Homo sapiens: one gene and its partners. The protein of the gene in region 1 interacts with the protein of each later gene in a pairwise test. Each region holds a gene or a part of one and is shown in the gene's direction. Other genes may lie near its edges.

The links.
Region 2: the proteins of TAL1 (region 1) and RUNX1 interact in binary tests that used the Homo sapiens proteins (3 or more experiments, as listed by UniProt).
Region 3: the proteins of TAL1 (region 1) and NCAPG2 interact in a two-hybrid assay, tested with the Homo sapiens proteins (one study listed by BioGRID).
Region 4: the proteins of TAL1 (region 1) and PRKCQ interact in a two-hybrid assay, tested with the Homo sapiens proteins (one study listed by BioGRID).

The regions. Positions count from the first base shown.
Region 1 is NC_000001.11:47,229,211-47,236,610, reverse strand, and holds the start of TAL1 (T-cell acute lymphocytic leukemia protein 1), read left to right. Parts: upstream 1-4,385; 5' UTR 4,386-4,444; intron 4,445-4,721; exon of another isoform or gene 4,722-4,763; intron 4,764-4,895; exon of another isoform or gene 4,896-4,954; intron 4,955-5,348; exon of another isoform or gene 5,349-5,564; intron 5,565-5,569; exon of another isoform or gene 5,570-5,701; intron 5,702-6,839; exon of another isoform or gene 6,840-6,957; intron 6,958-7,259; 5' UTR 7,260-7,400. UniProt on the Homo sapiens protein: Implicated in the genesis of hemopoietic malignancies. It may play an important role in hemopoietic differentiation. Serves as a positive regulator of erythroid differentiation.
Region 2 is NC_000021.9:34,885,299-34,892,321, reverse strand, and holds part of RUNX1 (runt-related transcription factor 1), read left to right. Parts: intron 1-2,240; exon of another isoform or gene 2,241-2,429; coding exon of another isoform or gene 2,430-2,645; intron 2,646-2,850; coding exon of another isoform or gene 2,851-3,516; exon of another isoform or gene 3,517-5,209; coding exon of another isoform or gene 5,210-5,225; coding exon 5,226-5,479; intron 5,480-7,023.
Region 3 is NC_000007.14:158,652,782-158,659,804, reverse strand, and holds part of NCAPG2 (condensin-2 complex subunit G2), read left to right. Parts: intron 1-1,396; coding exon 1,397-1,467; intron 1,468-3,099; coding exon 3,100-3,253; intron 3,254-3,371; coding exon 3,372-3,545; intron 3,546-4,349; coding exon 4,350-4,466; intron 4,467-4,546; coding exon 4,547-4,687; intron 4,688-5,015; exon of another isoform or gene 5,016-5,110; coding exon 5,111-5,210; intron 5,211-7,023. UniProt on the Homo sapiens protein: Regulatory subunit of the condensin-2 complex, a complex which establishes mitotic chromosome architecture and is involved in physical rigidity of the chromatid axis.
Region 4 is NC_000010.11:6,493,258-6,500,280, reverse strand, and holds part of PRKCQ (protein kinase C theta type), read left to right. Parts: intron 1-1,722; coding exon 1,723-1,885; intron 1,886-3,029; coding exon 3,030-3,061; intron 3,062-3,160; coding exon 3,161-3,246; intron 3,247-6,904; exon of another isoform or gene 6,905-7,023. UniProt on the Homo sapiens protein: Calcium-independent, phospholipid- and diacylglycerol (DAG)-dependent serine/threonine-protein kinase that mediates non-redundant functions in T-cell receptor (TCR) signaling, including T-cells activation, proliferation, differentiation and survival, by mediating activation of multiple transcription factors such as NF-kappa-B, JUN, NFATC1 and NFATC2.

The DNA.
Region 1 (7,400 bases):
GTAGTAGTAGGCCTGGGGTGAGGCCTGAGAATTTGCTTTTCTAACAGGTTCCTCGGTGATGCTGACCATCCACTTTGAGAGCCACTGAGAGTGAAGTTCCTTCCATCCCTGAGAATTCTGACAGCAGCGTTGGGGTTTGGAAGCACAGACGTGACTCCCAAGCTCGGAATTCTTGAGGCCTGCTTACTGATGGGGTAGGGGTTCTTCCAGGGCAAGAGACAGAGGCAAAAATGGAGAGAATAGTCCTTTGAAAGTGGAAGAGGGAAATAATGACATTTCCTCAAATTGAAATTTTCCTCATTAAAAATAATCCTTATATAAACAGTATTATGTATGGAAAATGAGCACCTCTCTTCTGCAAATAAGGAAAGTGAACCTCAGAGATTAAGTAATTTGCCTGGTATCATACAGCTGGCAACTAGGGGAGCAGGGATAGGAGCTCAGGTCTGCCTGACCATTGTGCTTGCTTTGCTGCTTTCGAAGCACTGTGGCCTGAAGCCAGACTGCCCTAGGTGTGAATTTTGCCTCCACCACTTACCTGCTGGGTGTTCTCTGCAAGTTGCTCAACCTCTCTGTGCTACCTACAAAATGGAGTAGTCCCTACTTCATTAGGTTCTTGCAAGGATTAACTGAATTAATACTTACAAAGTGCCTAGGACAGTACTTGTCACACAGTAACTGCAGTGTAGATTTGTTAAAAATAAACTCGGCTGCTCATCAGAGTGCATGCATGGCATCTTTCCGGAGAAGAAGCTCGGGGGAGAAGCTCAGAGATAGTCCAGTACTCAGAGAGGGCAGGCAGAAACACTTGAAAAATGGTAAGAGGCTTGGCTTTGGGGTTTAGGGAGAACCCAACCTTTGGTGGTGGGGAACAACGGCCTCAGGGCCAGAGCCTAGCTAGCCTGTTCTTGTCCCCTGCTCTTGCTGCCCCAGTTCCAGACTCCAGACTTACCAGTCTGGGTCTCAACCTCCCCTCCCTCCTCGCCACCCCCACCCCAGGCGCTCCGGGTTTCCTGCCCGACTGGGGCCTCCGTTTGGGGCGGGTGGAGGAGGGGTGGCATTTCCTGGCTGGCCCCGGCCTGTCACTCTCTCGTGGACGCTCGGACAACTCGCTGACCGACAGGCACCAGATGCTATTTCAGGCAGCGCCCCGCTTAGCGCACAGCTTCCGTTTTTCCACTGACCATCGGAAACAGGGGAGGGGGCAGATGTAGACGTCATGAGACCCCAGCCCCTGGCAGGGCTTTGGTGGATGAGGTCGGGAGTGGCTGCCTGACTGTCAGAATCTGGAGCTTGGCAGAGAACAAATGTGTGGAATTGGAGGGTTGGTGAACGTCACCTCCTCGCTCCACAGACAGAGGCCTGGGCACACCCTCTGCCACAGGGCTGAGAAACGCCTTTCCACCTGTCCATATTCCTTCACCACAGGAAAGGACACTTTCCTTGGAGGTGCTGGCTGGGGACATTTAATGCCCTGTAAAATAATCCAACAGTCTGCAGGTGTCTCAAAGGCATCTAAACTTAAGGAGTTCAAAACCAAATATATAAGCCCTCCCCATGTCCCCTCAGCCTCCAGGTTCCCCATCTCCAGGAATAACCACCACTAGCTCTGCAGGACAGCCAGAAACCCAGGGGTTTTCCTGGATTCCTTCCTCTCCCTCATCCCCCCAAACCCAATTCTTTTTTTGTTTGTTTGTTTGAGACAGAGTCTCGCTCTGTCGCCAGGCTGGAGTGCAGTGTCGCGATCTCGGCTCACTGCAACCTCTGCCTCCTGGGTTCAGGTGATTCTCCTGCCTCAGCCTCCTGAGTAGCTGAGACTACAGGCGTGCGCTGCCACACCCAGCTAATTTTTGTATTTTTAGTGGAGACAGGGTTTCATCATGTTGGCCAGGATGGTCTCGATCTCTTGACCTCGTGACCCGCCTGCCTGGGCCTCCCAAAGTGCTGGGATTAGAGGCATGAGCCACCATGCCTGGCCCAAATCCAATTATTATAAACCCAGTTTTATACCCCAAATACATGTCATCTTCACTTGCCTCTTGTCATCTCTTCTGCCAGCACAGTGGTCCAAGCTCTAATCCGCTTCCCCTAACCACTGCATTGGCTCCACAACTGGCCTCCCAGAGTCCTTCCCCCTCCACACTTCATCCAAAGAACTTTCTAGAAATGCAAATCTTATTCTATACAAGGTACCACCCCCACCTTCAAACCAAACAAACAAAAAAATGTCAAAAAATCTTTTAACTTGTCCACAAGCATGCTCCAGCCATACTGGACACTTTTCTATTCTTTTCACGAACCTACCACCCTTCTGTTCTAGCCCTTGGTCCAGCTGTTTCCTCAGCCCACCTGGAAGGTTCTGGATACTGATGCTTCTCCCCACCCCCCTTCTTCGCACCCCCAAATTTCACTCTTAGATCTCAGTCCAGGCCTCATTTTCTCAGAGAAGCAGTCCCCACCTGGGCTCTCCCATATGGGAATGGCTAGCCTGTTTTTACAGTGGCTCAGAGACATGAAATCACTTCTCTAAGGGTCCCACAGCCCAGGAATGGCAGAGTTGTGTTTCAGACTCAGAATTATATGACTCTCATTTTCTAATAAGTGATGGAGCCAAGCAAAGGCCTTATGGTAGGGGGGAACTAGACTTTTTCTTAGGATGTGGGATTCTGTGAGAGTTATCTGTATCCCCATGACAGCCTGACTTCCTTCAGAGAGCACAGGAGGAACAGAGGGGACAGGCGGCACTGAATTAACTGTATCTTCTCAGAGGGTCAACCTGATGACCAAGGAGAAGCCAGATCCCAGACTGGGGCCATGCTCTCTGCTCAGTCTTTGACTGGGACTCAGTTTGTTACCAGAGTAGGGGTTTTCCCCCAGTTCTCAGGCTCCAAAAAAAGCTCAAAAGCAGAGACACTAGAAGGACAAATCAGCCTGGCATGGAAAGTAGAGTTGTGGACTGGGAATTGGACACCAAAGTTTGGGTCCTGGCTTTTCCTTTGGGTTACTGTAAGTTTTGGCTAAGTCACATCTCTCTGTGTCTTAATTTCTTTCTCTATGATGATAACCAGAACTCCCATGCAAGTGCATATGATGTTTTCCTGGGCTGTGGACTGAGTGACGTTCCATACATTATTATCCTCACCACCACCTTTTAAAGGTCATATAAGTTAGTTCTCATAACTTTGTGACGTCGACATTATCTCCCCATTTTACAAATGAGAAAACTGAGGTTCAGAGATCAGTGACTAAAATTCGAACATGTGTTCTTTCCACTCCACCATGAAAGAATGAACCCAGAGACCCTCCGTGGGCTGAGCGCATCATCCAGCTGGCACTGAACTCAGATTTCTACCCCACAGTAAAGACCCTGGTCTCTGCAATGAGTTGAGCCCAGGTCCCTTTCCCTGGCTAGGTTTTGGCTGCCCCTCTTCATCAGCTGAGCCGCAGAGAAGACTCCGTGTCAAATTTCCTTCCAAGGCAGACTCCACCAAGCACTAGCTATGTATCATTCGAAAAGTTACTTTGACTTTCTGTGCCTCAGTTTTCTCTTCTGTAAATTAAGGATCCAGCTTCTCAGGACTGTTTGTGAAGAGTAGATTAGTATTTGCAGAATGCCTAGAATAGTGTTACAGTCGCTAGATTAAACTTTTTTTTTTTTTTTAAATACCATGTGGGGAGCAGTGTTCCTGGGCTCTGGGCTCAGCCTGAAACCTAGCAGAATAGGCATTTTATGTCCCTATTGACAGGGGTTCTGCCAGGCCGCCGTAGAGCCCATGGATTTGAGTTACCGGCTCTATTTTAGAAGGGGGTGAAGAGGTAGGGAAGGGCTGGGGAGCTTTCTGGGATAGGGAGACTGCCCATTGAAATCTGGGTGTCTGGGACACTGGAGGAAGAATAAGAAAGAAGCCCTGGGAGGTGACGATTTTGGTATCATGGTGGTCTTCAGAGGTAGGGACAGAGTGCTGGGGTGAGAGTCGCTGAAGAAAGGTGTCTGAAAGGTTAAGGGACTGAGGTTGTGGGAAGCTGGGGTTCCTGAGAGGCCTTGGGATTAGAGATGGGGGCTGGATCTGCTGGGTCCTAGACAGCGCGTCCAACGCTCCCCGCAGCGCGTTCCGGAGCCGGTCCTAGCGCCGCTCAACCAGTCCCCACTCCCTCCGGTGAAATTGCCAAATTAAAATGAATCATTTGGCCCATAATGGCCGAGGCGCTTATCGGGGGCGGGCGGACCCGCGGCAGTGCCTTATCTCTGCGGCGCACACGGCCCCGGCGCGCCTCGGCCCATGCTAACGAGGCCTGGAACGTGAGTGGGATTACAGCGCGTCGGTGGAGGGGCCGGGCGGGCGCGGGGCGGGCGGGGGAGCGGGGGCCGCGGGAGGGGCCGGGCCGCCGCCGCTCAGGACCGGGCCTCAAAATGGCCACACGCGTACCCCCGTAGCGGAAAAACGTGAGCATTCTGGCCTTTTTCTAGGGGAAAAGCAACCCGCGGCCTCCCACCGAATTCTTCATCAATTTCCTCCTCTTTTTCCCCACGTCCGCAAAAGAGGTCTTCGCTCCCTTTCCCTCGGTTCCTTTCGATGGCCGGGGGGGGCGGTGGGGGGGCATTTTCCACGGACGCCCCCGCCCCGGCTGCCGCCGCCCCTCCCGCCTCGGAGACTCTCTTCCTTCCTTCCCCCTTTTCCTTACGCAATATACAGAAATGCGCGAGGCTGTGGTTGGTTTTCATTTCTTCTTCGTGGTTGTGTGCATGCGGTGGGATTGTGAGAGTGCGTTCATGAGAACTGTGGGCGGCGTTGGCTGCTTCTAAGTGTGGTCTTCTTGGCGACAGGCTCTGTGTCCGAGTGTGGTGTGCCTGCGCGGTTGGGGTGTGTAGATGTGGACCCTTCGAGGCCCTTCTGCGTTTTCTTCGTTGCGTACGATTGTGCTCCGTTGGTGTTCTCAGCAGGGATCTGATTCTGTGTGTGGGGGTGTGTGGCCCCTGCGACTGTGTTTGGGTGGTGTCGTCGTTATGTCGGGCGTGTGTGATCCCGACTGTGCTGGATTGTGTGTCCGTGAGCCGCTGCGTTTGACTGATTTCGTTGTGTCCTGTTGGGCAGTGTGCGGGGCTGACCAAGTCGGCTTCTGGGGCAGTGCTAGGTGGTGTTTGTTTGCTGCCCTTCTGTGGGGCTGGACCCTGTGTGGTCCTGTCCGCACTGAGTTGTATGCCTGTGTGCCTGTGTCCTTTAGAGGTGCGTTTGCAAATCGCTGGGGGCGGGAGTGGGGGGAGGGCGAGCGAGAGATCGAGGCGCTGGTGGGGGCGGCGGCATGGGGGCGGGGAGCGGGATTTCACATTTTATTCCAAATTATGATGTATTCGGGAGCCAGTTGTTGGCTTGGGTGGGCGGACAGCGCCCGGTCGGCGGCTGCTCTGCCCGGAGGCCCGCCTGTGCCTAGGTGTTTGAGGGGTTCGTTGGTGAGTGGGAGGCTCCTCCAGGCTTGAAGCTGAGCAGCGCTCGCCGAGGCCGGCGCCTTCGAGCCGGTAGCTGCGGGCTTCGGTTCCCGCTGCACTCCGGCTTCATCCATTTCTGGTCAGTTTCGTGGGTGCGGCCGCCGGGCTCCAAGGGAGAGGCCCCGAAAGGACAATGGGCACATTCACCAGGCCTCGAGCCTCGGGTGGGGACATTCGGGATCACCTCCTGGGAAGATTTTCCCGCCCCCTCTTCGGGTGAGCGACGTTGCCGCTTGGGTCTGATACCCGTCGCATCCGAGACCGAGGCCGAATCCGGGCTCTGGGAGGGACCGGGTTAGTGGGGCCCTAGCTCGGGTTGAAAGAATTTTGTTTTGTCAATTATTGTAATTGCTAATGCCATCACCATCACAATCGTCATCATTAACATCTATTTTAATTAAAATAATCATCCCAGAGCGCAGCAGTTTGTCCCTTTTGGCTCCTTTGGCGGGAGAACAAAGCAGCGGGTTTTTTTCCGCTACAGCCGTTTTCTAAGTTGCTGGGTTTGAGGTAGGAAGAGAAAATGGAGAGAGGCACGGACACAGAGACTTGGTCATAAGGCAAACATTAACCCCCAGCGAACACGCAACATTAACCCCCCGCGAACACGCCGGGAATGGATGGATTCCCCTCTTCTTTCCTCCCCTCCCCTCTTTTGGATTAGAAGAGGAGAAAGAAAATCTTCCGCATTGTATTGCAATCCAGGGAAGAATTATTCCTATATGTCCACCAAAGCCGCGGCAAATAGAAGGAGGCCTTCGCAGTTAATCCAAGACTTCGATGTGTGATCATAAGCCTGACGATTTAGGCAAAACAAATTAAACAAAATCCACTAGGAAAAAATAAAAGCAAGCTCAATCCTGCTACATCCTTGAAAGTAGTGTCGGGTTTGTTTTTACCTCCTTTCCTTTTACCTTGTTTATTGCTGTAACAAATCATTAGAATTCTCCCTTACTCTGTCTAAACCCCGAAAAATCGAAAATCATTTCGTAGGGGTGGTGGAGGGGAAGGTGGGGGACTTTTCCCCTTTGTTTCTTTCTTTCCCCCTTTGTTGGTCTTTATTTCCTTTTCTTTTTCTGTCTCTCTCTTCCTCTCTCTTTCTTCTTTCTCTTAATCAGTAGGGAGACGAGAAAGGACCTGAACAGATCAGATATCTCTCTCCAAGCCCCCTTCCCAACTCCATTTCTGTAGGAAAGTACAGCCCCTGGAATTGGGTTCTGGTTTCGCTTTGGGCTGGAGGTGGGTGGATGGGGGTCAGAGAGAGAATGAGGTGGGGGGGACTTCAAGGTTCTGTCCCACCGACCAGAGTCTGAAGACTATTCGCCTTTCCCAACACGGACCTCCGCCCATCCAGGCCCGGGACTATCCCTTCGCGGTGTAGCGGCAGCCGGAGACCTGGCTGAGGAGGCAACCGCGTAGACACCTCCCTGCTTAGAAAACAAACACTGAACCAGACCGATCCCAGTTGGAGGGTTCGAAAATGTTCCAGACAGCCTGTCGGGAGGGGTTGTTGTTGCTGTTGGACTAAATAGCTATTCCTGATTGGTCATGTATAGGGTTTTTTAAGGCGGGTGGGGGGAGGAGGGGGTAGAGGAAAGGCTCCAAACACCTGCAGGTTGGGGGCGGAAAGCTGTTTGCGATTCCCTGGACTGGTTGGTCGGGGACAGGAGGTAATTCCCAGCCATTGACCCCCATTTCTCTCTCTCCCTCCCTCTTGCCCTGCCTCTTTCTCTCCACCCCTATCTTTCCTGGAAACTCGCTTTGGGCGCGGCAGATCGCCCAGGACCACACCGCAGCGTAACTGCAGGCCTCTCAGCGAAAAAGGGGGAAAGCAAAGACCCGGGTGTGCATCCTCTTCCTCGGCTTCCGCCCCTTTCCGGCGGAGTGGAGATCCTATTCAGAGGGGCCGGTCTCT
Region 2 (7,023 bases), on another chromosome or scaffold:
GAAGAAAAAAATGTTTAATTAAATTCCAATGTTCAAAACTGGATAGTGTGTATGGCAGGTGATTTGTACATACATGTTACTCTTCATCAAAATTGTTTTCCATCCCTGTGACATCAATACAAACTGCAGCTATTTGGTTCCAAACCATAGCAAGATACATTCTATTTTTTAAAATGTAAATGGTCATTTAAAATAGAAATAATTCTTTTAGACGTACTGCATTTTTACAAATGTGATTTTGGAAATATATTGCTCGCAAAGGGTAATTTTAAGAGAATTGTTGAGATTCTAATCCCATCTTTATGCATATTTTGGGGAGGCTTTTGAAAGAGCAAAAAGGTAAAAGATTTAGTTATCTTCTGAGACCACCTATAGTTCTTTACCTAAAGTTGTAGAAGAAAAACGTCAATGCACTGTTACTGTTTTCCAATGAAATTATTTTTCTTCCAACTAACCAAGCAGTACTTTTTAAATCCACTGCAGAAATGTACATTTCATTCCTGTTGTGAGCCGTTTTCAATTCTCCTCCCTCCCTCTCCCCGCAACAAAATTTGGAAAAATCTGTCACGTAGCATCCGCCCAACGTATCGCTTCGTTGTATTTTTTTTTTTTTTAATTTTGCATTATGACAAAAGTAAATTCTAGCATTACTCCAGGGAAACACTGGGAATGAACCTGGTAATGTTTCCTTTCCTTTCTCCCTTAGGCAAAGGAAGGGGAATTCTGTATTGTCGCTAAAATGAGCGCTCTTGGTGGAAAGGAATTCCTCACTTCGTACACGCTGTGGCTGTCCTTGAAAGTGCAGGCTCCGTAAAATGCCCGGCCGACTAAGGGGTTCCCTTTCCCCGGAGCCCCTGCCTCTTTCCATTCATTTTAGATCCTCAGTAAGGAAGGGCAGAGGTTGGTCTGTTTCTTCTTTTCAAGAGGGCACCGCGCTGCGCAGTTAACAGCCTGCGCCGCTCCGGGGAAACCCAAATGTCCCGCGATCCCATCGAGTCAAGGAGCAAAAGCTGTGATTGCTATCAGCTTTTTGTCGGGCTTCAAACTCGGGGTTTATCGGTTGAAACTCCTAGCTGAGCAGCTCCCACGACGCTGCCTCTGACGGCTAAACTCGGTGCATGCAAGGCTGGGACCAACTTTCCTTACTCGATAAAGGAACTTGACTCCCTCCTGGGAGACCGCAGCCCGAGTCCGACTCGCAGCCCCCGTCGCGGGGTTTAGGGTTTTAGGCAAGCGGCCCGAGACCCAGAGGAGCCTCCCTGGACCTTTCCGAGGGGCAAATCACCCGAGTCTGCTATTTCCCCTGGAGTCAAAAGCCTACTTTTGGAGCCGCCACACCCTCGTGCTCCCTCCCGCATCTCGGGGGTTCCGGGGGATGCACGTGGGGGTGGCCCCAGGAGCCCTGGGTGGGATCTCGGGGAAATGCATTGGAGACCAGGCGAAAAGGTTTCCCTTGCCCAGAACTTGCCTCTAGAGCGGGCCGCGTCCGAACCCGCAGGCAAAGGCGCTGCGGCCCCTGCGGGCGGGCGGGCGCGCGCGATGCACTCTTCTCAGGGACAGAGTTAGAAAGTGGACGTTTGGGCGGGGGGAGGGGGGGATTTACAACTGGAATTAGGCTTAAAAAAATCATTTTAAAAGAAAAATGTAGTAAGTTTTCTTTCCGAGACCCCAGGTCCATTAAAACAAAACTGAACTCGGGTGCTGGCAGTGCCCAGGGGGAGCGGAGGCGGAGAGGGTTGAGGCCGCGGGCCGCCCGCCTTAGCCCCCCGGAAGCCCGGGCTCCTGAAGCACAGATAGCCAAGAGCGGCCCGAGTCAAGCCCCAGGAACAGGGGCTTCGGGAAGAGACCCCGACCGGGCCGCACAGCGGGGAGGCCTGGTCCGAGAGTCCCCACCTGGCCGGCTGCGACTCTATATTGGAACCTCGGAAACGCGCCTTGGCCGTTCCAGCTCAAGTGGGCTCTGGGGCGGCTTCCTGTCTTTTATCCTCGAACGCTAGTTCTTCCCGGGCGACCCGAAGGCCACGAGGCGGGCCGCACAGCCCCGCGCCGTCGGGGGCGTTCCGGGAGCTCCGGGGACTGCGCGCGGCGTCCAGGGAGGGCGGCTGCTGCCCCCTGGCGTCCGCCAGAGCCCGCGGCGCGTCCCGACAGCTCCGCGCAGTCCGGGCCCGCCCGGGAAAGGCCTCCACGCCAGTCAACCCCGGCCCCCTCCTGCGTCCGGGCCCGCGGCAACGCCCGGGGACAGTCCCTGCGCGGCAGCGGCCACAGCACCCTAGCCCTGGGGGAGGGAGGAGCGGGCGTCAGGGGCCCCGTGAGGTCGGCGAGGGACCCCCGCGCCGGGGAGCTTAATTGAGGGGCTCCGCGGGGACCACAAAGCAGCCCGCGGTGGAACGGGGCCGGGATCCGGGGACTGGGTTGCAGCCCCGGGGTGGATGAGAGGCCCCGGGAGGTGCAGGGCCCGGCAGGGAGGGCGTGGAGGGACTCATGGTGACGGGAGCAGCCTCCGCTGGGAGGGAGCCCCGCCGGGCGGGGTCGGAGTTGGCAGCGCACGCCGGACCGGGGGCGGGGCCCTCCGAGCTCCGCGAAAATGCCCGCAGCACCGCGGGGACCGGCGCAGGGGGAAGCGGCCGCCCGCACGCGAAGCCGGGGTGGGTTCCGCACCTGGGGCCGCTCGAGCGCACGGGGGCGGGGAGAGGAGCGGGGGCCGCTTCCGGGGAGCCGGAGGGGAGACGCGGGGCCCGGGCAGGCTGTCCGGCTGCTGCGGGTGCCGGCGCTACAAGGCCCGGGAGCAAGCCGCGTGGCTGCTTTCAACTTTCCTTCCAGCCGCGCGTTCTTGGGGTCTTTCCTGACTAGGAAACTCTTCGCTGGCCGCTGACGCACGCAGCAAGTGAGACGCGCGGAGGGATCGAGCCGCGGCCCGGGCGCAGCGGTAAAAAACACCCATTACAGAAACCGACCCAAGGGAAGACGCTGAGAGCAAACGGCACGCGCGGACGCCGTCCGGCCTCATGCAAGGAATCAGCGCCGCTTCGCCGCAGCTGCCAGCCGGACGGTGCAGGAGCGCGGAGTGGCTCCCCCGGGCCCCGCGGCCAAATCGCACCCCCGCCCTGGAAGCGGAGGCCTGGCCCTGGGCGGCCGCGCAGGATCTGGGGCCGTCCGCGGGCTGCAGCCCGGTTCGGGAGCCTCGTGGCGGCCACTGCGCCTGCCTGCAGCGGCTCGCGGGGCCGGGCCTCTCCGGGTGCGGCGCGCCGGCCGGGTCCTCCTCGGGCCGGCGGGGCCTGCTTTCTTTTTCCAGGTCTCCGGACCGTGGCCACTCGCGGAGCCGCACAAGCCTGCGTGTGGCTGCGGAAAGGGGTCCGCACGCGGGCGGGGCCCCGGGCCAGCATGCAGGCTTGGATGCGGGGCGCGGGGGTGGCCTCCGACTCCCCGCCCGGGCTGCGTACAGTAGCGCGCGGCGCGGCGGCGGGGGCGCGCGGGCCAATTCCAGGAGCCGGCGGCGGCGAGCCGCGCCCTGGCTGATACCGGAAAGGCCTGTGATTGGCCGCCGGCCGCCCCTATGCAAACGAGCTGAGGGAATGGAATTCCTCCGGCCGGGCTTACAGTAAAAGCACGTTCATTTCCAGGCACTCTCATTCATAGAGCCAGCGGGCGCGGGCGGGACGGGCGCCCCGCGGCCGGACCCAGCCAGGGCACCACGCTGCCCGGCCCTGCGCCGCCAGGCACTTCTTTCCGGGGCTCCTAGGGACGCCAGAAGGAAGTCAACCTCTGCTGCTTCTCCTTGGCCTGCGTTGGACCTTCCTTTTTTTGTTGTTTTTTTTTGTTTTTCCCCTTTCTTCCTTTTGAATTAACTGGCTTCTTGGCTGGATGTTTTCAACTTCTTTCCTGGCTGCGAACTTTTCCCCAATTGTTTTCCTTTTACAACAGGGGGAGAAAGTGCTCTGTGGTCCGAGGCGAGCCGTGAAGTTGCGTGTGCGTGGCAGTGTGCGTGGCAGGATGTGCGTGCGTGTGTAACCCGAGCCGCCCGATCTGTTTCGATCTGCGCCGCGGAGCCCTCCCTCAAGGCCCGCTCCACCTGCTGCGGTTACGCGGCGCTCGTGGGTGTTCGTGCCTCGGAGCAGCTAACCGGCGGGTGCTGGGCGACGGTGGAGGAGTATCGTCTCGCTGCTGCCCGAGTCAGGGCTGAGTCACCCAGCTGATGTAGACAGTGGCTGCCTTCCGAAGAGTGCGTGTTTGCATGTGTGTGACTCTGCGGCTGCTCAACTCCCAACAAACCAGAGGACCAGCCACAAACTTAACCAACATCCCCAAACCCGAGTTCACAGATGTGGGAGAGCTGTAGAACCCTGAGTGTCATCGACTGGGCCTTCTTATGATTGTTGTTTTAAGATTAGCTGAAGATCTCTGAAACGCTGAATTTTCTGCACTGAGCGTTTTGACAGAATTCATTGAGAGAACAGAGAACATGACAAGTACTTCTAGCTCAGCACTGCTCCAACTACTGAAGCTGATTTTCAAGGCTACTTAAAAAAATCTGCAGCGTACATTAATGGATTTCTGTTGTGTTTAAATTCTCCACAGATTGTATTGTAAATATTTTATGAAGTAGAGCATATGTATATATTTATATATACGTGCACATACATTAGTAGCACTACCTTTGGAAGTCTCAGCTCTTGCTTTTCGGGACTGAAGCCAGTTTTGCATGATAAAAGTGGCCTTGTTACGGGAGATAATTGTGTTCTGTTGGGACTTTAGACAAAACTCACCTGCAAAAAACTGACAGGCATTAACTACTGGAACTTCCAAATAATGTGTTTGCTGATCGTTTTACTCTTCGCATAAATATTTTAGGAAGTGTATGAGAATTTTGCCTTCAGGAACTTTTCTAACAGCCAAAGACAGAACTTAACCTCTGCAAGCAAGATTCGTGGAAGATAGTCTCCACTTTTTAATGCACTAAGCAATCGGTTGCTAGGAGCCCATCCTGGGTCAGAGGCCGATCCGCAGAACCAGAACGTTTTCCCCTCCTGGACTGTTAGTAACTTAGTCTCCCTCCTCCCCTAACCACCCCCGCCCCCCCCCACCCCCCGCAGTAATAAAGGCCCCTGAACGTGTATGTTGGTCTCCCGGGAGCTGCTTGCTGAAGATCCGCGCCCCTGTCGCCGTCTGGTAGGAGCTGTTTGCAGGGTCCTAACTCAATCGGCTTGTTGTGATGCGTATCCCCGTAGATGCCAGCACGAGCCGCCGCTTCACGCCGCCTTCCACCGCGCTGAGCCCAGGCAAGATGAGCGAGGCGTTGCCGCTGGGCGCCCCGGACGCCGGCGCTGCCCTGGCCGGCAAGCTGAGGAGCGGCGACCGCAGCATGGTGGAGGTGCTGGCCGACCACCCGGGCGAGCTGGTGCGCACCGACAGCCCCAACTTCCTCTGCTCCGTGCTGCCTACGCACTGGCGCTGCAACAAGACCCTGCCCATCGCTTTCAAGGTACTGGCCCGGAGAGGGTGGTGGGAGGACAGGCGGAGGCCGGCGAGGCCGGGGGAGATCCGCGAGGGCAGCGGCCAGGCGGGCGGGGCCGGATTCTGGAAAGGGGCCCCCGCAGCCCCGGGTCGGTCTTCCTAGCTTGGGATGTGGGGGATGCTGTGTTGCCGTGGCGACCCTCGGGAGGCACTCGTCTCAGCTTTCTGGGGCGGCCTCCCAGGAGGGCTGAAAACATCAGGGTGTCCCCAAAGATATCCACTGGGAGCCGGTCGGGACCTCCCTGGCAGGGGCCTTAGCTTTGATACAAAGTAGGAAAAGTTATAACCCAGCCCGGCAGAGACAGCCCGTCTGCTAACTTACTGCTGCCCCTACCGCTGGATTAACACCCAAACCATTTTGTCTTCCTCAGATGAAAGGATCAGGAAATAAAATAGTAAGACTTTTCTGCCTTCAAGTCAGTGAAAAGAAACTAACTAGGGAAACTGTCAGGGATTTTTTTTCCCCTTCTCTAACCGCCCTATAGGAATTAGCATGTCCAAAGTCCACAGCGGGCGTAGTTAAGTTTGCAAAAGTTTTCTGAAGAGTTCTCTGAGCTTTTTAGCCTGCTCCTGCCAGAAGCCGCAAGTATCGAATCCTGTTTCTTTTCCCGGAACCGTTCTGAATGCTATCATCAGCTCACCTAGATTAAGCCAGGGGTAGCGAAAGGTGACGAGGCTGTTTTCGGAGAGCCAGGGGTCCCAGCGGCCCGCTTTCCTGCTAGAGGAGGGGGCGGCGCGTAGCCGGAGACTTCAGCGCGGCGGCTCCAAAGATCTCCCTTCACTTTTCACCCCTGATCATCCCCAAAGCTTTGAGCTGCCTTTAAAAACCTTGACCTTCAACAGGGGTATGAAAACAACCCCAGGCGTTTCTAAACAATCACCCTACTACACTAGCAGCAAGCAGTAGGAATTTAATTTCTGCAGTGGAGATTCTGTTTTGTCTTTGGTGGGTTTGAAAAGATGCGACTAAGTAAAATCAGTGCGGGTCATTTCCTGTTCGTTTAAAGGGCGAATCAAGGCAGGTGGTTCCAAGTGTAAAGATAAGCTACTAAAAAAAAAGTTTAAATAATTGTCCCCTTTAAAGGGAGATTAATTTAATATAAGCTTTTTATAGTTCCAAGCCTCAGCTGGGTCTTGATCTTATTACAACGACGAATATTCACTTTTTAAAAAAGTATTGTTGCGGTTATTTTTAAGCTTTATACAGTTTCCACACTTAGATTGTGATTTCTAAAACAAAACGAAATTTGCAGTTGGCTGTGTCTATAGATTGGCCTCTTTTTCCACTCACTTTTCTAAAAGCAGTTTTTTTTGTTTGTTTTGTTTTTTAGTGGGGGTGGAAATGAGGAGAAGGAACGAAGGAACGTGGTGGCTTGCTTGACTCTTTTTTCCCTCCCTCCGTTTACTTAGATTTGGGTTTGGGAGACCATTTTACTTTTAAATCATTCTAACCCTTTGCCTAAATGGACTCAGCGATGACTCTTTAGGGCACCCGCATTGAGAGGGGACCCA
Region 3 (7,023 bases), on another chromosome or scaffold:
TTGTTAGTTGGGGGTAAGGATGGGTCACTGTGAATGCAAATTAATTCCTAATCAAATTTTGATTTTGGTTTGTTTCTGTTTCATATGTATTTTCAGGAAAATTATTATTATTATCATTATTTTAGGATTCACCATGTCCTCATTCTCCCAGCCAAGAATATCTCTTATTGAGTGTTCTTGAGGAAGGGTGGATGTACCCCCTTTTACTTATTGTTTTAGTAATAATAATTTAGCTGCAATTTACTAAGCACTGAGGACACTCTAAATACTGTACTGGGATTCTGTGTGGTGTAGTTCACTTTGGTTCTTCCAACAGTCCTGTGTTCCTTTTGCAAAGGGAGAAACTGACTCTGAGAGCTTAACTCCTCTCCTCTGTGCTATGTCAGCTGTTGGGCTACAGAATCTGATTGGGTCTAGATTTGGTTCAGTAGCCTCAAAGCTTACTTTTTTTTTTCTTCTTTTTTTTTTTTTTTTTGAGATGGAGTCTTGCTCTTGTCACCCAGGCTGGAGTGCAGTGGCACAATCTCAGCTCACTGCAGCCTCTGCCTCCTGGGTTCAGGCGATTCTTCTGCCCCAGCCTTCCGAGTAGTTGGGATTACAGGCGTGAGCCACCATGCCTGGCTAATTTTGAATTTTCAGTAGGAACAGGGTTTCACCATGTTGATCAGGCTGCTCTCGAACTCCTAACCTCAGGTGATCCAGCTGCCTCAGCCTCCCAAAGTGCTGGGATTACAGGGGTGAGCCACTGTGTCTGGCCTTTTTTTTTTTTTTTTTTTTTTAAATATAATGCCCTGTTGCCCAGGCTGGAGTGAATGCTTACTGTAGCCTCTAACTGTTGACCTCACGCAGTCCTCTCACCTCAGGCTCACAAAGCGTTGGGATTAGAGGCATGAGCCACTATGCCCCACTGCATTTTCCCTTGAACTATACTGTCTTCCTAAAGATATTCTGATTTTGTTTTATAACATTTTCTCTGAATAATTTCCTTCTTTTGAGATTTGTGTTCAGGATACCAAGTGTATAGAGTTAATTTTTTTTCATTTCATCAGTGTTGTTTTTTAAAGTAGATTCAATTCATGACAGCATATGATTTTGTTTATCCTGCTTACTGGCATATTCCCAGGGTCTAGATTGGTACTGGGTACATAGCAAGTGCTTAATAAATATTTGCAAAGTAGTAAAATGTTATATAAAACTTCCATAACACTCACCAAGTAATTTTCTCTGCCCCTCAAACATGAGGCTGGTTTAAGTTTTCCTTTTGAACGTGGAAAGGACTGCCATGGTTCTTCTTGAGCAACTTTGGTAGTAAGTTATCAGGAATTTACGTAGAGAGACTTTCAGAATTTATAGTGCTTACATATGCTTTGTTTTGTTTTTCTTTTTTCGCTTTTAGGATGATCGCTGCAAGATCCCTTTATTCATGCTAATGTCCTTTATGCCGGCCTCTGCTGTCCCCCCATTCAGGTATTTGCTCTGTTTTTTGGTACGGTAGAAAAGTAGGAATCCTGTCCATTGTTGTGCTGAATTATTAATTCATGTCAGCAGACCATAACATTTAGCTTTCAGCTCACTGTGGCCTCTTCCTTCTGCCCTTCCCTCTCCCTGTGGTAGGGAAAATATCAGGATGTGATTTTCTTTTTTTTTTTTTTTTTATTGATCATTCTTGGGTGTTTCTCACAGAGGGGGATTTGGCAGGGTCACAGGACAATAGTGGAGGGAAGGTCAGCAGATAAACAAGTGAACAAAGGTCTCTGGTTTTCCTAGGCAGAGGACCCTGCGGCCTTCCGCAGCGTTTGTGTCCCTGGGTACTTGAGATTAGGGAGTGGTGATGACTCTTAACGAGCATGCTGCCTTCAAGCATCTGTTTAACAAAGCACATCTTGCACCGCCCTTAATCCATTTAACTCTGAGTGGACACAGCACATGTTTCAGAGAGCACAGGGTTGGGGGTAAGGTCACAGATCAACAGGATCCCAAGGCAGAAGAATTTTTCTTAGTACAGGACAAAATGAAAAGTCTCCCATGTCTACTTCTTTCTACAGAGACACGGCAACCATCCAATTTCTCAATCTTTTCCCCACCTTTCCCGCCTCTCCATTCCACAAAACCGCCATTGTCATCATGGCTTGTTCTCAATGAGCTGTTGAGTACACCTCCCAGACGGGGTGGTGGCCAGGCAGAGGGGCTCCTCACTTCCCAGTAGGGGCGGCCAGGCAGAGGCACCCCTCACCTCCCGGACGGGGCGGCTGGCCGGGTGGGGGGCTGACCCCCCCACCTCCCTCAAGGATGTGATTTTCAATGGGCCCTAAGTTAGTACGTGATGAAAGAAGAGACTGCATGGAACTGAAACTGTTACTCCACTTTAAGTCTGGGGTTACTCTTAGCACCTGGTGTGGGAGGTTCTGGAGCACAAGGTCACCGTTGGTCACATGTGGCCCTGAGCACCTGGGCTTTGGCTATTTGAGCTGAGATGTGCTGTGAGTACAAAATACATATGGAGTCAGCCTTGAGGCAAAAAGAAGAGTGTGAAATATTGATTACATGTTAAAATGATTTTGGATAGATTAGATTAAATAAGATTATGTTATTGAAATTAGTTTTACCTGTTTCTCTTTGTGTTTTCAAATGTGGGTACTAGAAAATTTTTAATTACATTTGTGGCTTTTGTGTCTCATAATATTTTTCATTAGAGCTCTACAATGTTGGTGATTATCTCAATAAAAATTATTTTTATTCATATTTGTGGAAGAAAAAGGAATATTTTGATGCTAAACAAAAATTGTTCTTCAAAAGTAGAAACTCTTGCTCTAGAATCTGACAGATGGCACAGAAACAGAAGGATGAGGGCTTTGTGTGGCTGCTGTGCCCTGCTTCTTCAGTGTCCAGAGCTGGTCTCAGGTCTTGTGGTGGGATGCAGCTGAGCAGCAATTGTGGGAAACTGTATTTATTCCTGCATTGGAGAGCATGGAAGTGCTAATATAATAACAAGGGCTTATGCACCGTCAGATTTTAGCTTCTTGGTTTTCCTCACCTTTTGACAAAGTTGGGGAGTCTCCGTTGAAATACTCAGTCCGATTTTCCGTCTGACATTTTCAGCTGTGGTGTGATTTCCACGCTGAGAAGCCGGGAGGAGGGCGCTGTGGACAAGAGCTACTGCACTTTGTTGGATTGCCTCTGCTCCTGGGGGCAGGTGGGGCACATTCTGGAGCTTGTTGACAACTGGCTGCCCACAGAGCATGCCCAGGCCAAGGTAGGTTGACATCATGTTTCCTTAAAATTAGGTGAGTGAGGATAACTGTGTATTAGAAATTACATGCTTTTCTAGGGACGTGTGTTTTCATTATCAGTTTCTCTCTCTCTTCTTTCAGAGCAACACAGCTTCTAAAGGTAGGGTGCAGATCCATGACACACGCCCAGTCAAACCTGAATTGGCATTGGTCTACATTGAGTATCTGCTGACTCATCCAAAGAACCGCGAGTGCTTGCTCTCTGCTCCTCGGAAGAAACTTAACCATCTTTTGAAAGCCCTTGAAACGTCAAAGGTAACTCTGTGCCCTGAGAGTTGAGTGGTTTCCTATGATTGTGGGGGTGACAAATCAAAGTGTGAAGCTTTCATATTTACAGTGCTATACAAGTGTTCTGGCTGGAACAGAATTGAGAGTGATCATGTCACCTCATTCAGTTGGTACAAGGCATGGAGCCTGGCCAGGGCAAGGTTGGGAGTCAAGTCCCAGTTGACACGTGTTCAGAAATCTCACATTTGTGTTGCACCTGCTAGGGCGCTAGGACTCAGGAGGATGGCCCCAGTGTCTCAGAACACACCCTCTGCAGGAGATGTGTCACATACCCTTTCATGTGGACACTCACTCCCTGCAGTCCTTGGCAGTTTTTTCTGGGAATGTTTGGAGAGCATTTCCTGGGAACCCATCATGCTCCCAGCTGTCCCACGGAGGCCGTCATCTCTTCCTCTCCTCCAGGAGCCAGCCCTCTGAACACCCTGTTACGCTGCCCTCAAGTGTGACTGTACCAGAAGCAAAGCCCCAGCAGAGTGGAGCCAGGCAGATGGGGAGGACGGGGCCTGGTCATGAGGCAGGGAGGGGACGGGTGGTGCTGCGTGCAGGGCAAGGGCTGTGGACGGTGAGCTGAGGCTGCTCACCTGGCTGTACATTTTCCCATACCACCCAGCACCTCATGTCCGGGTGCAGAGTCAGCAGACACTGGGCTTCACCAGAGCGGGGGTCTTTTCAGCTCGCCTGAGGATCAGGTGCTTCCCATTGTTCTTGCTGTACGGGGTGTGGTGGTGCCTTGTCAGTCAGCATGTGGCCCTTGGGTTTTTTCTATTACAGGCAGATCTGGAGTCACTTCTGCAGACACCGGGTGGGAAGCCTCGTGGCTTCAGTGAAGCAGCTGCCCCGCGAGCCTTTGGTCTCCACTGTCGCCTGAGCATCCATCTTCAGCACAAGGTGTGCCTGCTCCTGGCCCTCTATTAGGATGATACACAGTGCTCTTTTTGTTACTGATTTATCTTCTTGTTTTTGGACAGTTCTGCTCAGAAGGAAAGGTGTATTTGTCCATGTTGGAAGACACTGGCTTTTGGTTAGAAAGCAAAATTTTATCTTTTATTCAAGATCAAGAAGAAGACTACCTGAAGCTTCATAGGGTCATTTATCAGCAAATTATCCAGGTTAGAAGTCTTAAGACACAGAAAACTTTCTCTTTACCAAGTTTGTTATGTTTCAGGATTTCATTTTCTACTTTAGAGTGGTAATTTTAGACATTAGTGTTATTCTTAAAAACTTACAGGGACATTTATCTAACTTTCTAGTTTATCTTTTTGCAAAGCGTAAACTGCATACTTTCAGTGTAATTTTATACATTACATATAAGAGGTGTTCGATTATGTTTGTGGAATTACATAAAATATGTCTCTAGATTTCTTACAAAAACAAGAATTAATGTATCTTTATGAAAATTCCTTTATAAAACATCTTTATAAAAATCTGCTTTATAAGATAACTAGCACATGGATAGGAGAAGCTTTGTGAGGCTGGATTTACTCCCTTTTTAAAAATGGCCTTTGTTGCTAAGCTGTGTCTGTCTCTTACAGACCTACCTGACTGTGTGTAAAGATGTTGTTATGGTAGGCCTTGGTGACCATCAGTTTCAGATGCAACTCTTACAGCGGAGTCTTGGAATCATGCAAACAGGTACAGTCAGGGCTGTTTTAGAGCAATAAATACTCAGAACCAGTCCTTCCCTCCCTCCCTCCTTTACTGTGTAGCTCAGAACTCTCACTTTTAAGTGACTGATTATAATGCAACCTGGCATATCCCAAAAAAGGGATTTGTTAGGTGGTTCAGCCCGGAAATTAAGAGGTGTTTCTGTGTCAGACATGACTACATCCAGAGTTTGTGACAGGGTCCTTGGGATTCTGCCTGTCCTTGTGGTCAGCTTTGTTGCCAGGCTGACTTTCCCTGTGGATTGGGCTAGTGGCTATTTCCTGGCATCTGTGTGGGAAACCATCACCTTTTTGCTCTGCTCTGGTCATGTGCTCCTGTGGATGGGGGCGTGAGTCAGACATTATTGGGTGGTACCCCACCAGGACCCCCGGAAGTTGCTGTTACCACAGGGAAAGGGTTAGCACAGGGTGACCCATGGCAACAGTGAGTGAGAGGACAGCCCTCGAATCACATCAGATGATGACGGGAAAGGGTGTGGGGCCAGGGGGAGTGCAGCTGGGGTCATTCCATATCTCCTTGGCCTTCTGATCACAGTCTGGTAAAGAAGAGTACTGCTGAGCTGGGACCCTGGTCCCTGGCCCCTGACGCCTAGCCCCTAGCCCCTAGCTCCTAGCCCCTACTCCCTAACCCCTAACGGCCAGCCTCCCCCTCAGCCGCTTCTGTGGTGTAGCTGACTGCTGTGTAAACCTGTTTCTGGATGGTTTTTAAGTAGTATCCCAATATCCCAGTGCTGCATTTGATTCTCACTGAGATCTGTAAAAGCCTCAACATTTGATGTTGACATTTCTTTAAGCCTAGTTATTTGCTAGAAGAGATTGAAAATGATAACATTTAGTAAATTCAACATTAAGTTTTGAAAATTAGATTAAGTTGGTTGTCCAATTTCTAGTGGATCCATCTGTAGTCTCTTTCCCATAGCCTTAAATATCTTCATGGCAGATTCCAGAGGGGTCTGTGTGTGTGGACACCCCCAGTGTATCTGTCTTCATGACGTTGCAACTGAAGTAGATGCTAGGAGAACACTGGAGCCAGGATACTGGGCAGTGTCTTAGTTAATCTTTAATTATAAGCAAAATCATCCATCATTTGTTTAACAGATCTAAAGTTTAAGAGTAAATATTAAATAGACCAATATTATTTGCTTCAGCTTTTTTGTTTAATTATTATTATTATTTTTTTTTTTATTTTTTTTTTTTTGAGACCAAGTCTTTCTCTGTTGCCCAGGCTGGAGTGGAGTGCAGTGGTGCGACCTTGGCTCACTGCAACCTCCACCTCTAGGTTCAAGCAATTCTCATGCCTCAGCCTCCTGAGTAGCTGGGATTACAGGTGCCCACCACCATGCCTGGCTAATTTTTGTATTTTTAGTAGAGGTGAGGTTTCACTGTCTTGGCCAGGCTGGTCTCAAACTCAAGTGATCCACCCACCTTGGCCTTTCAAGGTGCTGGGATTACAGGCGTGAGCCACCATACCCAGCCTGTTTAATTCTTTATAATTCACTTCTGTTGTGAAAACAGCATTTTATACTTAAGCTTAATGATTGCAACAGTCAAAATTATTTATTTTTTAAACTTCACTTATCATTTAGGAATTATTTTCCCGTAAGGACCAAATCTACTTTTATTATTTAAAAAATTTACTTTTTGGAGGAGCTAATTATAACTAGAATTCTAGATCTCCAGTGTAGCCAGTTTCATTGTATAGGTATATCTGTTCTCTTAAAAATAAAACAGAACCAACAACACTGTTCTCTAATTCAGGTGTTGAGGGAACCACACTGCTG
Region 4 (7,023 bases), on another chromosome or scaffold:
ATTTTATTTTATTTCATCTGGACCAAAATAGAAACAAGTCACATGTTATAAACAAATGACCTACTATACTAGTCACAAGTTGTAAATAGATTTGGACATTTAGACCAGAACTTGTGGAAGAAGGTGATTAACTCAGTGATCCTTAATTTAACCCCTCATTTACCAAGCCAAATCTATTATTTCCAGCCTAGTTCCAGGTAAAAAGACCAAAATTACCTACTCTTAAAGTATTAGGCAAAGTATTATGTCCCATCTGTGGAACTGTTAGAGGGTTACTGGAAATGCTTTTTGTCTGGAAGTTGGGGTTGCCATAAAACAAATCTGCGGACACTACAGAAAAGACTTCAGTCCTACAATGTGTCCTGGGATGTGGCTGGATTCCTGGGGGAGGTTTCTACCCACACAGCTCCTCCTTTGTCTACCTAGAGTGTTTCTAATCTAGCCACTGTTAGGGATTGGACAATAAGGTATCTTGGAAGATAATTTGCCCCAAACGCATTGTCAGGCTACTGCCACTGCTTAGCCACAATAGAAGAAATTTAGTTTGAATATTATTAACTCATTGTGAAATATGATGAACCTGCTTTTTAAATGAAACCTCAATGTTTTGTATTTGTAACAAAATAGAAGAAGTAATCCAAGAGTCTTCAAGCTATTACAAAATTATAACTCTGGGATTTAAATTCATTATCCTTATTTATTTATTCACATATTTATTTGTGTATCATTTTTGTTACAGCAGTGGATATTTTTATTTCTTTACTGTTCCTTGTGTTATTCTCTCTCACCTGCTGTGTCCACTGTGCTGTTTAACCATGACTGCCTTACAATTTGGTGTTTCATGAGGACCTGGGCTTCAGCAAGGGCATCCTGAGCATTCTCATAATTTGACTATCTTAGTTTTTCAACCCTTTGGAAAGATGTCATTCAGGTATAGGGCACTGTAAACAGTGACTATCCAAAGCACTTTCACCAATATTTATGAGCCCAGAGTAAAATGAATAGATTGAATCTGATGGTTTGATGCTGATGACTAGGTAATGCACAGGATTACCTAGACACCAAAAAAATGCAGTGAGCTATTAATTTTCTGGCCTTTTTCACATTGGTAAATATGGTTGGCAGCTGGTGTGTCTGATCACTGTGGACATCAGGAACCAGGACACAATGTCCCAAAGTTCCTTTCTCCTCACACAAAATCCTGGTCAGCTCCCCCTAGTCTACTCCAGCATGTCTCCAACAACCTGCTATAAAGCATCCTGGCACCTCTGAAATGCTGTTCCCAAGAGGCTGTCAGTAACCATGTGATTCTCTAGAATTACAGACAGGAAAGCCTTTGCCACTTCCTGCCTTTTCTGACTGAGTCATCATTGATGGTGACAAAGAGAGGTTGATAGATCCCTTCAAAGTTCTAATCTCTGGTTTTGAAACTTGAAGAGGATATATCGCTCAGCCCAGTCAAAGAGGAGCGAAGGATTGAGCCAGCAATCCAACATTGTTTTCACCCTCTAACAATATGCCCTATGATGAATCTGTGTTGTAGAATTTGAGGAAAGATGCTTAGTGTGGTACCCACCATAATGAGTACCTGGAATGTTACAGCAGGTACTCAGAGCTGGTCCTCCTCCATCCCTTGCCCATCTCCCTCCCCTCCTGACCCAGCTTAGAATAGGAGTCGTCCTTTTGCAGAACTTCACTTTCTTCCCCTCTCTCTTCCTGTAGACACAAAGGACATGAATGAATTTGAGACGGAAGGCTTCTTTGCTTTGCATCAGCGCCGGGGTGCCATCAAGCAGGCAAAGGTCCACCACGTCAAGTGCCACGAGTTCACTGCCACCTTCTTCCCACAGCCCACATTTTGCTCTGTCTGCCACGAGTTTGTCTGGTACAGTAACTTGGCATCTCCCTCCAAGCTTCGGGTTATGCATTTTGTTGCGTCTTCTTAATCCTCTACGCTGGCATGCTCCACTGTGGGGGGTGTGCTGGAGTAAATGCTACCTCAGCGTTGTCAGGGACCTTGCCTGAACTGAGAAGGTTCAAATGGTGTGATCCAATAAAAGAGGTGCATGAGGAAGCCAGGTCTAGTCAGGAAAAATGCCCATGGGATTTTAGTTTCTGCCTCAATGGGGGGGCTATTGGGGGTAAGTGGGAAGAAACAGAAGTGAAAGGTATCTTTATTACAAACAGTTTTCCAGTTTTATAGTCAAAACTTCCCCCACCTAATGGCCCAACCCTGCTGGTGCTACTTTTTCCAGCAGGCAGCACTCTGCCATTGTAGCTAATGGTTTAAATGCTTATGAGGCTCTTGGGTATCTTAATAGCCATCAAACAGATCAGTTTAAACCTCAGTAACCACATAGCAAAGGCTATGACAGAGTGGAGACTTGAAATAACTCCTGTTTCTGGCTCTCAGCATCCTAGCCTATTAAGGGATACTCTTCCCTTTAGGCTACTGCAGAAACTGTTAAAGCACAGCTCCTGTGTAACCAGGGTATCCACATGCCAGATCGACTTGGCGGGTTTTCATCAGCCTGCTTTCGTCTAATCACTTGAACCTCCTTTCTCTCTAATCATGGATGTCACTCAGGAATCGGTCCTGCATGTGAGACTTTGTTGGTTGCAAATATTCTCAGATGCTCAGAAAGAGGAAATAAAATGTTACAGATGTCTTTGTTCGTCTGTAGTGAGCTCAGCGAGGCCATGAATTTTTAAATCTAGCACAGGGAAACGTGCTACGAAGAGTCTGTGATGCATGCATTTTCATTCATGCATTTTAATCTCTATATGTTTGGAAAATACAAGGATGATAAATCAGCCAGTTCTCATTTATTTAATTATCAAACTTTTTAAAACGCAGCTTCAAATGAAAAACACTCTGTTAATACTCTTGGCAAATGATACAACAGGGCTGCTGATCAGAAACTGCTCTGTGATCTTAGGGGGTTATGAGATCTCATCCATCTCTTAAATGCTGTTGGTGCTGATGTTGATGCCAACATTGAAATAAATCAGCGTGTGCTTTATTACAGGGGCCTGAACAAACAGGGCTACCAGTGCCGACGTAAGTAAGAGGGTTTTGGTTGCATTACCATCATTCTTTTTATTTAGTTATTCCTTAGGCTATGAAAATCTTAAGCTGTGATTTTTTTCTTCTTTTCAGAATGCAATGCAGCAATTCACAAGAAGTGTATTGATAAAGTTATAGCAAAGTGCACAGGATCAGCTATCAATAGCCGAGAAACCATGGTGAGTATTTACACTCCTCTTTGACGTGCAGTGATTTTTATCAGAACGTTAAATGTTACAGCCCACGAATTCTTCAGAATAATGCCAGAACTTGCATCCTCCCATTTATCAGTGAACATCCATCTCCCCAAAACTCTTTCCTCTTCAATAATGATTCTTACTGAATTACCCAAACCAGAGGATGAATTAGAAATTAGCCAGGCCTGGTGGCATAAGCCTGTAATCCCAGCTACTCAGGAGGTTGAGGCAGGAGAATCTCTTGAATTCGGGAGGCGGAGGTTGCAGTGAACCAGGACCATGCCACCGCACTCCAGTCTGGGCAACAGAGTGAGACTCCATCTCAAAAAGAAAAGAAAAAAAAAAAAGAAATCTGCACTTGTACCTCCTAAATATACACAAATTATATACAGGAAGAATTTTCATTGCTCTACTTTTCCAGAAAAATGGCATAGAAAGTGGCCAGAAAGCATAGTTTAGATTAATTATATGAGAATAATCCTTGTGGCACCCCCAGCTAGAAGTGACAGTAAAAGAGTAAATAAAGGCAAATGATGATAAGATACAGCAACATGGCATTTACAAGGTTAGAGATAATAACAGAGGCATAATTTTATGTTGAGAAGCAAATATTTCTTTTAGAGTAAACGTTGAGGTATAATCGGAAGACAAATTACATTTTACCTAATGGAGGGGGGAAACTGGGCTAGCACATGGGCAGTGTATCATTATGAATTTTAAATTTTTAAAAATTTATATGTATTTAGGAGGTACAAGTGCAGATTTCTTTTTTCAATTTTTTTTTTTTTTTTTTTTTTTTTGAGATGGAATCTTACTCTGTTTACCCAGGCTGGAGTGCAGTGGTGTCATCTTGGTTCACTGCAACTTCCACCTTCCAGGATCAAGAGATTCTCCTGCCTCAGCCTCCTGAGTAGCTGGGATTACGGGCATATGCCACCACGCCTGGCTAATTTTCGTATTTTTAGTAGAGATGCGGTTTCACCATGTTGGCCAGGCTGGTCTCAAACTCCTGACCTCAGGTGATTCACCTGTCTTGGCCTTCCAAAGTGCTGGGATTATAGGCATGAGCCACCACACCTGGCCTACAAGTACAGATTTCTTCTATGCCTATATTACCTGGTGGGGAAGTCTGGGCTTCTAGTGAACCCACCATCCGAAGAGTGAATATTACACCCAATAGGTAATTTTCAATCCTCCCTCCCTCCCATCCTGCCATCTGTAGTCTCCAATGTCTATTACTCCACTCTGTCACTCATTATGAAATCTTTTGACTTCCTTCTCCCACCGTTTCCTTTTTCATTCCACAAATCCTCACTGGGTATCTGATTCATGGAAGATACCGCATTCTTCCAATGACAGCATAACACAAAACAGACGTGGTCCTGCGAAGTTGGAGAAACAGATAATAAACAGCTATGTATGGCTTCGATTTATATTAAGTGCTACAAAGATAGTGAACAAGGTGCAAGGTGGAGAGTAAGCATGTGGCCTACTGAGACTCTGTGGTCCGGGAATCTCCCCAACGGAGGGAACATTGAAACTGACAGCTGAAGAGTGACAGAGCTGGTTAGGTGAAGAGCAGGAGGAAGGAAGCTCCTTACAGGCTGGAAGACCCTGCTGAGGGAGAGTCCAATGTGTTCCAGGAACTGAAATGGGACCAGTGTGGTGACAGCTGCAAGGGCTGCGCAGACTGGAAGCCCACACTGGGGAAGGCACCAAGGCCTGGGTCATGCGGGGTTTCTTTGGAGCCTGGAAAAATGATTGTATTTTGTGCAACTTGTAGTAGAAAGCCCACTTTGGGATGCTGTAGTAGAAATAGTGCGTTGAGATGTGAAAGTGAAACCAGAGGAGATGGAAGGAATCCTCCAAGCGGGGAGGTTGGTGGTTTATACCAGTGAGACGTCAGCAGAGGTGGAGCAAAGGGGCAGGTTCTCAGGTGATTTTGATGTTAGAAATGACTGGATTTGCCAAAAGATTAGATGAAAGAGGTGGATATAAGGATGATGCCGCAGGTTCTGGCTTCTGCCCGAGGCCGAGCAGTGTGGTAGATAACAGAGCCACGACGGAGTGAAGAAGACTGGAAGGAGAGATGAATTTTTCCAGTTTGGACATGTTGAGTCGGAGAGGTGGACATCCAAGTTGAAGCATCAAATAGACAATTTCACATGAGCTTGGAATTCCTCTGGGACAAGGGCCCAACCCTATAAATTTGACAGTGACCATCATATAGGTAGATTTTAAAGTTGCTGAAGAGATTGCCTAGTGAGGAAATAGAGAAAGTTCAGGACTGACTACAAAGGAATCTAAAATGAGATGTTAGGTAGAAGATAAAGGACAGAGATAGACATTGAGAAACTGGGCTCAGAGACCGCTCCTCCTACACCCAGAGTCTATGAAGTTACAGAAACCAGAAGAAGAAGAGGTGGGTTGTGTTCTGTGCAGTTGAGGTGTTGAAATTGAGGCCCACGTGCAGATCTTCACAGGCTTAAATCAGAGAAATGTCAGGGGCATCTTGGAGGCATTAGTCTGATTGACCTGCAGAAGGGTGACTGAGGTGATGACATGAAAACAACCTGTAAGTTGATATTATGAAGAAGGTGAACCATGAAGGAGATGATGGACAGAGAACAGTGGCTGGGAAATGAGACCCCAAGGATGGCAAGTGCTCCCGTGGCCAGGGAGAGATGGATAAAGCTGGAGAGACAGATAAACAAAACAGTCAAGTCTGTTGGCAGGAAGCGAAGAGGGCCTGAGCTCTGGTGGAGACTGGTCCCTGGAGCTTCCACAGTTTAACCGGAAGGGAGTAGGGCAAGACAGTTGCTGATGGGGATGGGTGTGGAGCTTTGGTGATGGGCACACAAAGGCGCTTCCCTTAGACTGCATGTGTCCCCCATGGAGTTTGATGGCTGGAGGAAGGAAAAGAGAAAGCAACAAGTGCCTTCGAGGAAAAAGGAAGATCTATGAGATAATTATCTTAGAGAAAGCAAGGTGACTCGTGAAAAGCAGTCAGACTGTGGAGCAGAGCTGAAAGTCCATTTGAATTTGACGGAGTCAGCCTGCTCAGGAGTATGATTTTCTCCAACAAAGGGGCAGGTTCAGAGAAGGCGAAGTGGCTGGGTTTTTCCAGAGTAGAATTTCTCCTAACATTTAGAAGCAGAAGGAGATAAACTTGTGCTAACCGGTGATTCTGCTAAGACTCAAAGAGGTTAAAGTAGTTTGTTCATGTTTGATCACCTGTACGTGGCAGAGCTGGTACTAAAATTAAGATCACAATCTCTCAGACCATGTTTTTGCTTGCTTAGATCAAATTTTCACCTCCCAGACTTCTTCCTTTACTTGATGCCTTCAGCTTTTCTAGAAAAAAACGCAAATCTCTGAATCACTGTTAACCTCAATGACTAACAAAGTTCCTGGTACAAAGTCTTGAGAAACTGTCAGCTACATAAATAAATGTCTGTGATATTATCTTCTCCCAGGATATTTTGATTTCTTGTTCACTCAAGGGGACATCATCTTTGGGATTCTTTTGTTCCTCTACCCCTGGAGCAGTATTGTCCGATAGAAATAAATAGAATGAGGGCTACATGTGTAATTTTACATTTCCAAGTAGCCCACATTAAATAAAGGAAAAAGCAATGGGTGAAATTAATTTTAATAATACATTTTATTTAATCCAATCTGTTCAAATATCATTTCAACAAAAAATCGACATTTGAAAAATTCAGATATCTTAAGTAATTTTATACAAAAGTCTTCAAA